Linked DNA regions of Homo sapiens: region 2 is linked to region 1. The links come from fine-mapping of genetic effects on gene expression. A gene starts in region 1. The other region holds a variant in brackets. All regions are shown on one strand. Distances are between the middles of the regions. Region 1 holds the start of B4GALNT4 (beta-1,4-N-acetyl-galactosaminyltransferase 4). Region 2 overlaps PTDSS2 (phosphatidylserine synthase 2).

What was found. PIP is the estimated chance that this variant, and not a neighbour inherited with it, causes the effect.
Region 2: its variant is the best candidate, but not a certain one, in a credible set for the expression of B4GALNT4 in whole blood (TOPMed, PIP 0.74).

What each region holds. Positions count from the first base shown.
Region 1 is chr11:367,233-371,429 of GRCh38, forward strand. B4GALNT4 (beta-1,4-N-acetyl-galactosaminyltransferase 4) reads left to right here and starts at 2,267. Exons shown (of 20, transcript NM_178537.5): 1 at 2,267-2,722. The coding sequence starts at 2,572. RefSeq lists an enhancer at 800-1,338.
Region 2 is chr11:481,570-485,766 of GRCh38, forward strand. All of the region lies in intron 4 of PTDSS2 (phosphatidylserine synthase 2), which reads left to right. Among named protein-coding and RNA genes, the nearest start is that of RNH1, 24 kb to the right of the region's middle. RefSeq lists an enhancer at 2,768-3,289. The variant GT/G (reference allele first, on the strand shown) is at 2,012.

The sequences.
Region 1 (4,197 bases):
AGGGGCCGAGACGGATGTGGTAGCATATGGAGCATCTGCGTCCGGCAGATCCCAGCTCGCCCCTCAATTGTACCTACTATGCTTTGGATCCACAGGGGACACCCTCTGACTGTGGACCCATGAAGTGTCCCAAACACGTCTCTCCCGACATTGCCAACACTTGCCTTCTAAGAACCTGTTTACGGGTCAGGCCAGCCGTTGCCTCCCCAGAGAGCGACCCTGGAGCGGGAGCCGGCCTCCCTCCATCACCCAGCTCATCTCCTTCACGTCACTCACCACCAGCAAAGCGACTATGCGTTCACTGGTCTGTCCCTGCCTAGTAACATGTAAACTCCATGAAAGGAGGGCCCTTTTCTGTCTTGCTCACTGCTGTGTCCCCTAAGTCCCTGGCTCGTCAGGACACTAGAATACTAGGTAGCGTCCACTGGCTGGATGAATGTGCCTAGGATGGGGTGCCATGCAGTGGAAAGAGGGAAAGCATTAGACGCACAGCCAGACAGATGCACATAGAAAATATGGGACTTGGAGAAACAGAATGAGACACATAAAAGAGCACCACTGGCCGGGCACAGTGGCTCACGCCTGGAATCCCAGCACTTTGGGAGGCCAAGGCGGGAGGATCACTTGAGCCCAGGAGTTCAACGCCAGCCCGGGACACATGGTGAGACCCTGAATCTGTTAAAAAAAAAAATACAAAAAATTAGTCCGGCATGGTGATGCATGCCTGTAGTCCCAGCTCCTCAAGAACCTGAAGTGGGAGGATCGCTTGAGCCCAGGAGGTCAAGGCTGCTGTGAGCTGAGATTGCACCACTGCACTCTAGCCTCAGAGACACAGTGAGACCCTGTCTCAAAAAGGGGTGGGGCACTATATTTTAATGAATATGCAGATAACAGAAATATGAAAAGTGGACTGCAGGAGGCAGGAGATGAGGAGCTGATGGGGTGGGGGAAGGTTTGAGAGACCGGGTGTTGTTTAAGGGCCGGTATGAACAGCAGGATGTAACCAGCTTGCTTCTGTGCTCAGAAGTTAGGGGAGGAGGATGGAGGGGAAGGAGGGAAGGAGTTGAGGTCTTAAGAAGGCAACTTCTGGGCAATCTTCCATTGTGAGGTGGGGTCCACGTCCCCACAACCCACGAACTTGGGTGGCCGTGCGGCATGTGGCAAACCTGAGGGGTGACTCCAAGATGCTTCACTCTGTGTGCTGGACCGGGAGGCTGCCCCTGGCAGCTGAGCCTGCAGGCGCTCTGGCCAACCACCCGGGGTGAGCCCAGCCATTCCTGCCGAGGGTGCACTGGCTTGGGGCAGAAGTCTCTGGATGGCTCCAGCCTGTCCCGCGGAGCCGGCCCCACCACTCACGTCTTCCCACCGGAGGCCAGCACCTCGAGGAGCAGAGAGGAGCTGTCCCCGAGTGCCCTGAGTTCCTGACCCACAGGACACAGGAACACAGGAACGCTGCTGTTGGACAGCACTGAAGCTGGGCGGTTTGCTACACACCCAGAGACAGCTGAGCAGACAGAGGGAGAAGAGTAGGGTCACGCTGGCAGCTGGACAAGGGAAGTACTGGGGGGACAGAGGGACTGGCAGGGGTTGGTGCAGACCAGGTGAGAAAGGGCACGAAGTGGGACAAGGTCCCGGTGAGAGGCACGACACTGTCACCTGCCTCAGGCCGCGCTCGGTGGGGCGGGGGCCACCAGCTGAGGCCCCTCCTGCCGCCCAGACAGCTCGGCCCCCTGCGGCCCCAGCCCTGCAGGCTGAGATCCCGCAACGACTCCCACCCCTGGGCTGAAGCCGGTGCTTGGGCCCCCCCGCCCCCCGGCCTCTCTCGCCCGCCCCCATTCCCCGCCCCCCAGGACCCCGGGTCCCTCCCCTCCCTCCTCCGTGTTGTCCGCCTGCAGTCCTTCGGGTCACTGTTCTCGGGAGGCCGCCCCGCCCCACAGTCAGGCTGTGCCCATCCCCCGCCGCCCCCCACGGTCCCCGAGCCCCAGCGCTTCCCAGCCCCGCGTCTGTGTGCCGCGCCCCCGCGCTCCGTGGCCCAGGTGGACGCGCGCCCCGCGCCCCGCATCCCTGTCCGTCCCGCACCCCTCACCCCCCGCCCCGCACCCTCCGCACCCCCCGCCCCGCCCCGCCTCCCCTCGCCCCGCCTCCTCCGCCCCGCACCCCGCGCCCCGCCCCGCCTTCCCGCGCCCCGCACCCCTCCCCGCGCGCCGCCATTGGCTCCCCGCGGCCTGGCTCGGTCCGATTGGTTCCGCGCGCGCGGCCGGGGCCCGATCCGCGGTGGCAGCCGTGGATGCTGTTCGGTCCCGCCGCCGCCCCAGGAGCGCGGAGCCGGGAGCGGCCGGGCGGGGGGCACCGCGAGGAGCCGCCCCCGCCGCCCACCCCGGGCCCGCGGCCGAGGGCGGCCTGGGGGGGTCGCGGCCGCACCCGGTGGCCGCGCACGGCGGACAAAGGACCATGCGGGGCCGCGGGCGCTGAGCGCGGCGGGGCGGGCCGGGGATGCGGCGCGGGGCGGGCGGGGGCCGGGGGCTGCAGCGGCGCCGCTGAGCGCGGCCTGGGGCGGGCGCGGCGGCCGCGATGCCGCGGCTCCCGGTGAAGAAGATCCGTAAGCAGATGAAGCTGCTGCTGCTGCTGCTGCTGCTGAGCTGCGCCGCGTGGCTCACCTACGTGCACCTGGGCCTGGTGCGCCAGGGACGCGCGCTGCGCCAGCGCCTGGGCTACGGGCGAGGTACGGCGCGGGGGGCGCGGGGGGCGCGGGGGGCGGGGGCGGCGCGGGGGGCGCGGGGGGCGCGGGCGGCGCGGGGGGCGCGGGCGGCGCGGGCGGCGGGGGCCCCGGGGCGCGGGCCGGGCCTCCCACCGCACAGAGGTCTCGGCTGGGCCCGACCCTCCCGGAGACCCCGCCCGCTGTTCTCCGCTCTGCGATTTGGGGGGAGGGGGCGCGGTTCGGCTCGGCCCGGACGCTCGATGACGTCGGCAGTGACGCGCGCGACCCTCCCAGAGAGGGTCCCTGACTCTGGGATCTGGCTTGGATCCGGTAGTGAGGGGCTGACGGTGGGCTCCTGGGGAAGTCTCTGCCCCTAGACCCTGCTGAGGCTTCCAAGAGGCCTTCTCAGGCCTCGCCTCCACCCCCTGCCCGCTTAGCAGGGCCTCAGTTTCCCTGTGTGCTGGGGACCCGGGCCGGGGCTTGCTGAAGTGGCCGGTGCAGCTGGGACGCTTCCCGGCGGGGGCGCCTTCGGTGAACTGTGCCAGTGTTGTGGGGGTCCATGCGTAGGGATGGGGCCCAGCTTGGGGAGCCTGGCGTAAACTCTCCCAACCCCAACCCACAAACAAAGCAGATGGGGTCACGGTGAGCCAGCCGGGGTAGGGCCTCCTGGAGATGGTGATCTTTGACATACACCTTTGGGGGAAAGAGCATTCCAGACAGGAAGGCGCAGATGAAAGCCTGGCGGTGGGGTTGGGGGAGAAGGTGGGGCAGAATGCCCCCTCTGGAGGAGGGAGGTTAGTGCCATGCCCAGACCAGGAGAGACCCCAGCTGGCTGCCTCTGAGCCTTTTCCAGGGAGCCAGGTGTCCTGAGGGGGCAGAACAATGATACTGGCTGGGGACTCCTGGGCCACTCCACCTGCCAAAGCCCCTGTGTTCTCTTCCTGTACCGGGACGCCTGGACCCACACAGGCCAAGGGTCTGGGGCTTGTCCCAACCCACATACCTCACAGCTTCCACACCCTCAAGAGACCCCCGATACTGCTGAATCCCTAAAAAGCCCCACCCCAGCTATCAGCAGACAGGGCAGGATCCACAGCTGGCCCAGTGACACAGAACAAAACCAGCCCCCTCTGCAGGCTCCTCTGTGGTTTTCTGAGCAGCGCAGGGGTCTAAGCCCAACCAGGAGGGGGCGGAGGCATAGGGACCCCTCTTCCAAGGACCCCTTGAGGCTAAGCCAGCTCCGCCCCAGGGCACCTGTACACTTGCTACCTCTGAGGCTAGGGCCAGGACCAGAGGAGCCCAACAGCTGCCCAGGGAGAGGGCGAGTGAGCAGACTGTTCTGTCGGGGGACCTGGGGCCCAAGTCAGGGGAGCCCTGGGGGACCCTTCCCAGATCTGCCTGTGGACATCTCTACTGCCTCCCCACAAGCCTGGGCAGGCCAGCTCTGCACCCCAGCCCTCTCCACTTCCTGGACCTCCCTAAGCTGAGGACCTAGACAT
Region 2 (4,197 bases), 110 kb after region 1:
TATTACATTTACTCCAATTATTTTGTTCATTGTGTGCTCTTGTAAGTGGAACTGTTTTAATTTTACTTTTGCATTGCTCGTTACTCATGTATGGAAATGTAGCTCATTTTTGTGTACTGATCTTGCGTCCTGCAACCGTGCTGAACTGATTAGCTCTAATAGTTGTGGTGTTTTGGGGTAGACTCTTAAGAATATTCTATATTCAAGATTATGTCATCTACAAATAGAGATAGTTTTACCTGTTCCTTTCCAATCTAGATGTCTTTTATTTCTTTTCTTTTTTTTTTTTTTAGACTGAGTTTTGCTCTTGTTGCCCAGGCTGGAGTGCAGTGGTGTGATCTTGGCTCACCGCAACCTCCGCCTCCCAGGTTCAAGCAATTCCCCTGCCTCAGCCTCCCGAGTAGCTGGGATTACAGGCATGCACCACCATGCCCAGCTAATTTTTTTTTTTTAATTTTTAGTAGAGACAGGGTTTCTCCATGTTGAGGCTGGTCTTGAACTCCTGACCTCAGGTGATCCGCCCACCTTGGCCTCCCAAAGTGCTGGGATTATGGGCATGAGCCACCGTGCCCGGCCGATGTCTTTTACTTCTTTGCGTAGCTGCCCTGCCCAGAACCTCCAGCTCAATGTTTCCTAGAATAGGCAAGGATGGGCTTTTTTTTTTTTTTTTTGAGACGGAGTCTTGCTCTGTCGCCCAGGCTGGAGTGCAGTGGCACGATCTTGGCTTACTGCAAGCTCCGCCTCCCAGGTTCTAGCGATTCTCGTGCCTCACCCTCCGTAGTAGCTGGGATTACAGGAACATGCTACCACACCCGACTAATTTTGTATTTTTAGTAGAGTCGGGGTTTCACCGTGTTGGCCAGGCTGGTCTCAGAACTCCTGGTCTCAAGTGAGCCACCGCACCTGACTAATTTTTTAACTTTCTGTGGAGATGAGGTTTCGCCATGTTGGCCAGGCTGGTCTCAAACTCCTGAGCTCAAGCGGTCTGACCCCTTTGGCCTCCCAAAGTGCTGGGAGTATAAGCATGAGCCACTGTGCCTGGCCAGATGGACATTCTTATCTGATTCCTGATCTTAGGGGAAAAGCATCCAGTCTTTATCCCACTGAGTGTGTTAGCTGTGAGTTTTTCATAGATCTCCTTACCGAGTGGAGAAAGTTCTGTGAGTTTTTTGTAGATCTCCCTACCGAGTGCAGAAAGTTCTGTGAGTTTTTCGTAGATCTCCCTACCGAGTGGAGAAGGTTCTGTGAGTTTTTCGTAGATCTCCCTACCGAGTGGAGAAGTTTCTGTGAGTTTTTCGTAGATCTCCCTACCGAGTGCAGAAAGTTCTGTGAGTTTTTCGTAGATCTCCCTACCGAGTGGAGAAGGTTCTGTGAGTTTTTCGTAGATCTCCCTACCGAGTGCAGAAAGTTCTGTGAGTTTTTCGTAGATCTCCCTACCGAGTGGAGAAGGTTCTGTGAGTTTTTCGTAGATCTCCCTACCGAGTGGAGAAGGTTCTGTGAGTTTTTCGTAGATCTCCCTACCGAGTGGAGAAGGTTCTGTGAGTTTTTCGTAGATCTCCCTACCGAGTGGAGAAGGTTCTGTGAGTTTTTCGTAGATCTCCCTACCGAGTGGAGAAGGTTCTGTGAGTTTTTCGTAGATCTCCCTACCGAGTGGAGAAGGTTCTGTGAGTTTTTCGTAGATCTCCCTACCGAGTGGAGAAGGTTCTGTGAGTTTTTCGTAGATCTCCCTACCGAGTGGAGAAGGTTCTGTGAGTTTTTCGTAGATCTCCCTACCGAGTGCAGAAAGTTCTGTGAGTTTTTCGTAGATCTCCCTACCGAGTGGAGAAGGTTCTGTGAGTTTTTCGTAGATCTCCCTACTGAGGGGAGAAGGTTCTGTGAGTTTTTCGTAGATCTCCCTTACTGAGTGGAGAAAGTTCTAGTATATTCCTAGTTGGTTGAGTGTTTTTATCATGAAAAGTTGTTAGATTTTTGTTAAATGATTTTTCGCATCAAGTGAGATGATCATATGGGT[GT/G]TTTTCCCCCTTTGTTAATATGATGAATTACATTGATTGATTTTCTTATCCTGAACCAACCTTACATTCCTGGGATAAATCCTGCTGGGTCCCAGGGTGTGCCTTTTTACATACTGCTGGACTTGCTTTCCTAGCATTTTATCTAAGATTTTTGCATCCATATTTGTAAGAGGTACTGTCCTTTAATTTTCCTGGAATGTCTTGTTCTGGCTTTGGCACCAGGGTTTGTGAGGATGTCTGACGTTTTCTCAGTATTTGTCTGGGGTGAAGGCGCGCACTGGCACCATCACCATGACGTATCCCTGGCGCTGTGGACCTTGACTGCCTGGCGAGATGTGTCTGTCAGGCTTTCCACTGTCAATCCATAGTGCATTCTCCACAAGGAGGTCACTGGTGCAGCCTGCATGGAGGGAGGGGAGTTTCGTTGCCCCCCTTGGTGTGTGGCGTCTGCACGTTGCCAGGAATTCTTGTGCATGGGAGAGATCCTGCTTCTCTACCATTAGTTATTCCATCATGTATTTATTTATATCAGTGTGGACGTACAGATACTTGTCTTACACTTGCATATTTATTTCAGCGCTGCTCTATTTATCGTGGTGCCCAAATTCTTTTGCCAAAAGGAATTTCCACGTGGTTCCTGTATTGCTTTCACACACCCTCACGGAGTTCTTGGCTTTTCGTTTTGTTTTTCTGAGGACATCCTGACTTCCTAGCACTGCGGGATGCTCCAGGCTCCTCCTGTCCACTCCCCACCCTGGTCCTGGAATCAGCCCCTTCTCCAAGAGCCTTGGGTCCTTACTGAATATTAGGAACTGAGGCCTGGGTGTTGGGTGGGCTGCGTGGTCCTGGGTGCCATAGCTCACAGAGGACGGGCATGTGTGCACTCACTGTGTGTGCAGGCGTCTGTAAACACAGCCAGTGCAGGGGTGCGTGTGTGCTGTGTGCGCAGGAGAGTGTAAACAGTGCACGGGCGCGTGTGTGCTCACTGCGCAGGCATCTGTAAATAGTGCATGGGCGTGTGTGCTCACTGCGCAGGCATCTGTAAACAGTGCATGGGCATGTGTGCTCACTGTGTGCACAGGCGTCTGTAAACTGCACGGGCGTGTGTGCTGTGTGTGTGCAGGCGAGCGTAAACAGTGCACGGATGCGTGTGCTCACCGTGTGCGCAGGCGAGTGTAAGTGCACGGGTGTGTGTGCTGTGCGCAGGCGAGTGTAAACTGCACGGGCGCGTGTGCTCACCGTGTGCGCAGGCGAGTGTAAACAGTGCACGGGTGCGTGTGCTCACTGTGCGCAGGCGTCTGTAAACAGTGCACGGGCGTGTGTGTGCTCACTGCGCAGGCGAGTGTAAACTGCACGGGCGCGTGTGTGCTCACTGTGTGCGCAGGCGAGCGTAAACTGCACGGGCACGTGTGCTCACTGCGCAGGCGAGCGTAAACAGTGCACGGGCGCGTGTGTGCTCACTGTGTGCGCAGGCGAGTGTAAACTGCACGGGCACGTGTGCTTACTGTGCACAGGCGAGTGTAAACAGTGCACGGGCGCGTGTGCTCACTGTGTGCGCAGGCGAGTGTAAGTGCACGGGCGTGTGTGCTCACTGCGCAGGCGAGTGTAAACTGCACAGGCGCGTGTGTGCTCACTGTGCGCAGGCGAGTGTAAACTGCACGGGCGCGTGTGTGCTCACTGCGCAGGCGAGTTTAAACAGTGCACGGGCGCGTGTGTGCTCACTGTGTGCGCAGGCGAGTGTAAGTGCACGAGCGCGTGTGTGCTCACTGCGCAGGCGTCTGTAAACAGTGCATGGGCATGTGTGCTGTGTGTGTGCAGGCGACCGTAAACAGTGCACGGACGCGTGTGTGCTCACCGTGTGCGCAGGCGAGTGTAAACAGTGCACGGGTGTGTGTGCTCACTGTGCAGGCGAGTGTAAACTGCACAGGCGCGTGTGCTCACCGTGTGCGCAGGCGAGTGTAAACAGTGCACGGGCGCGTGTGCTCACCGTGTGCGCAGGCGTGTAAACTGCACGGGCGCGTGTGCTCACTGCGCAGGCGAGTGTAAACAGTGCACGGGCGCGTGTGTGCTCACTGTGCGCAGGCGAGTTTAAACAGCGCACGGGCGCGTGTGTGCTCACTGCGCAGGCGAGTGTAAACTGCACGGGCGCGTGTGCTCACTGCGCAGGCGAGCGTAAACAGTGCAC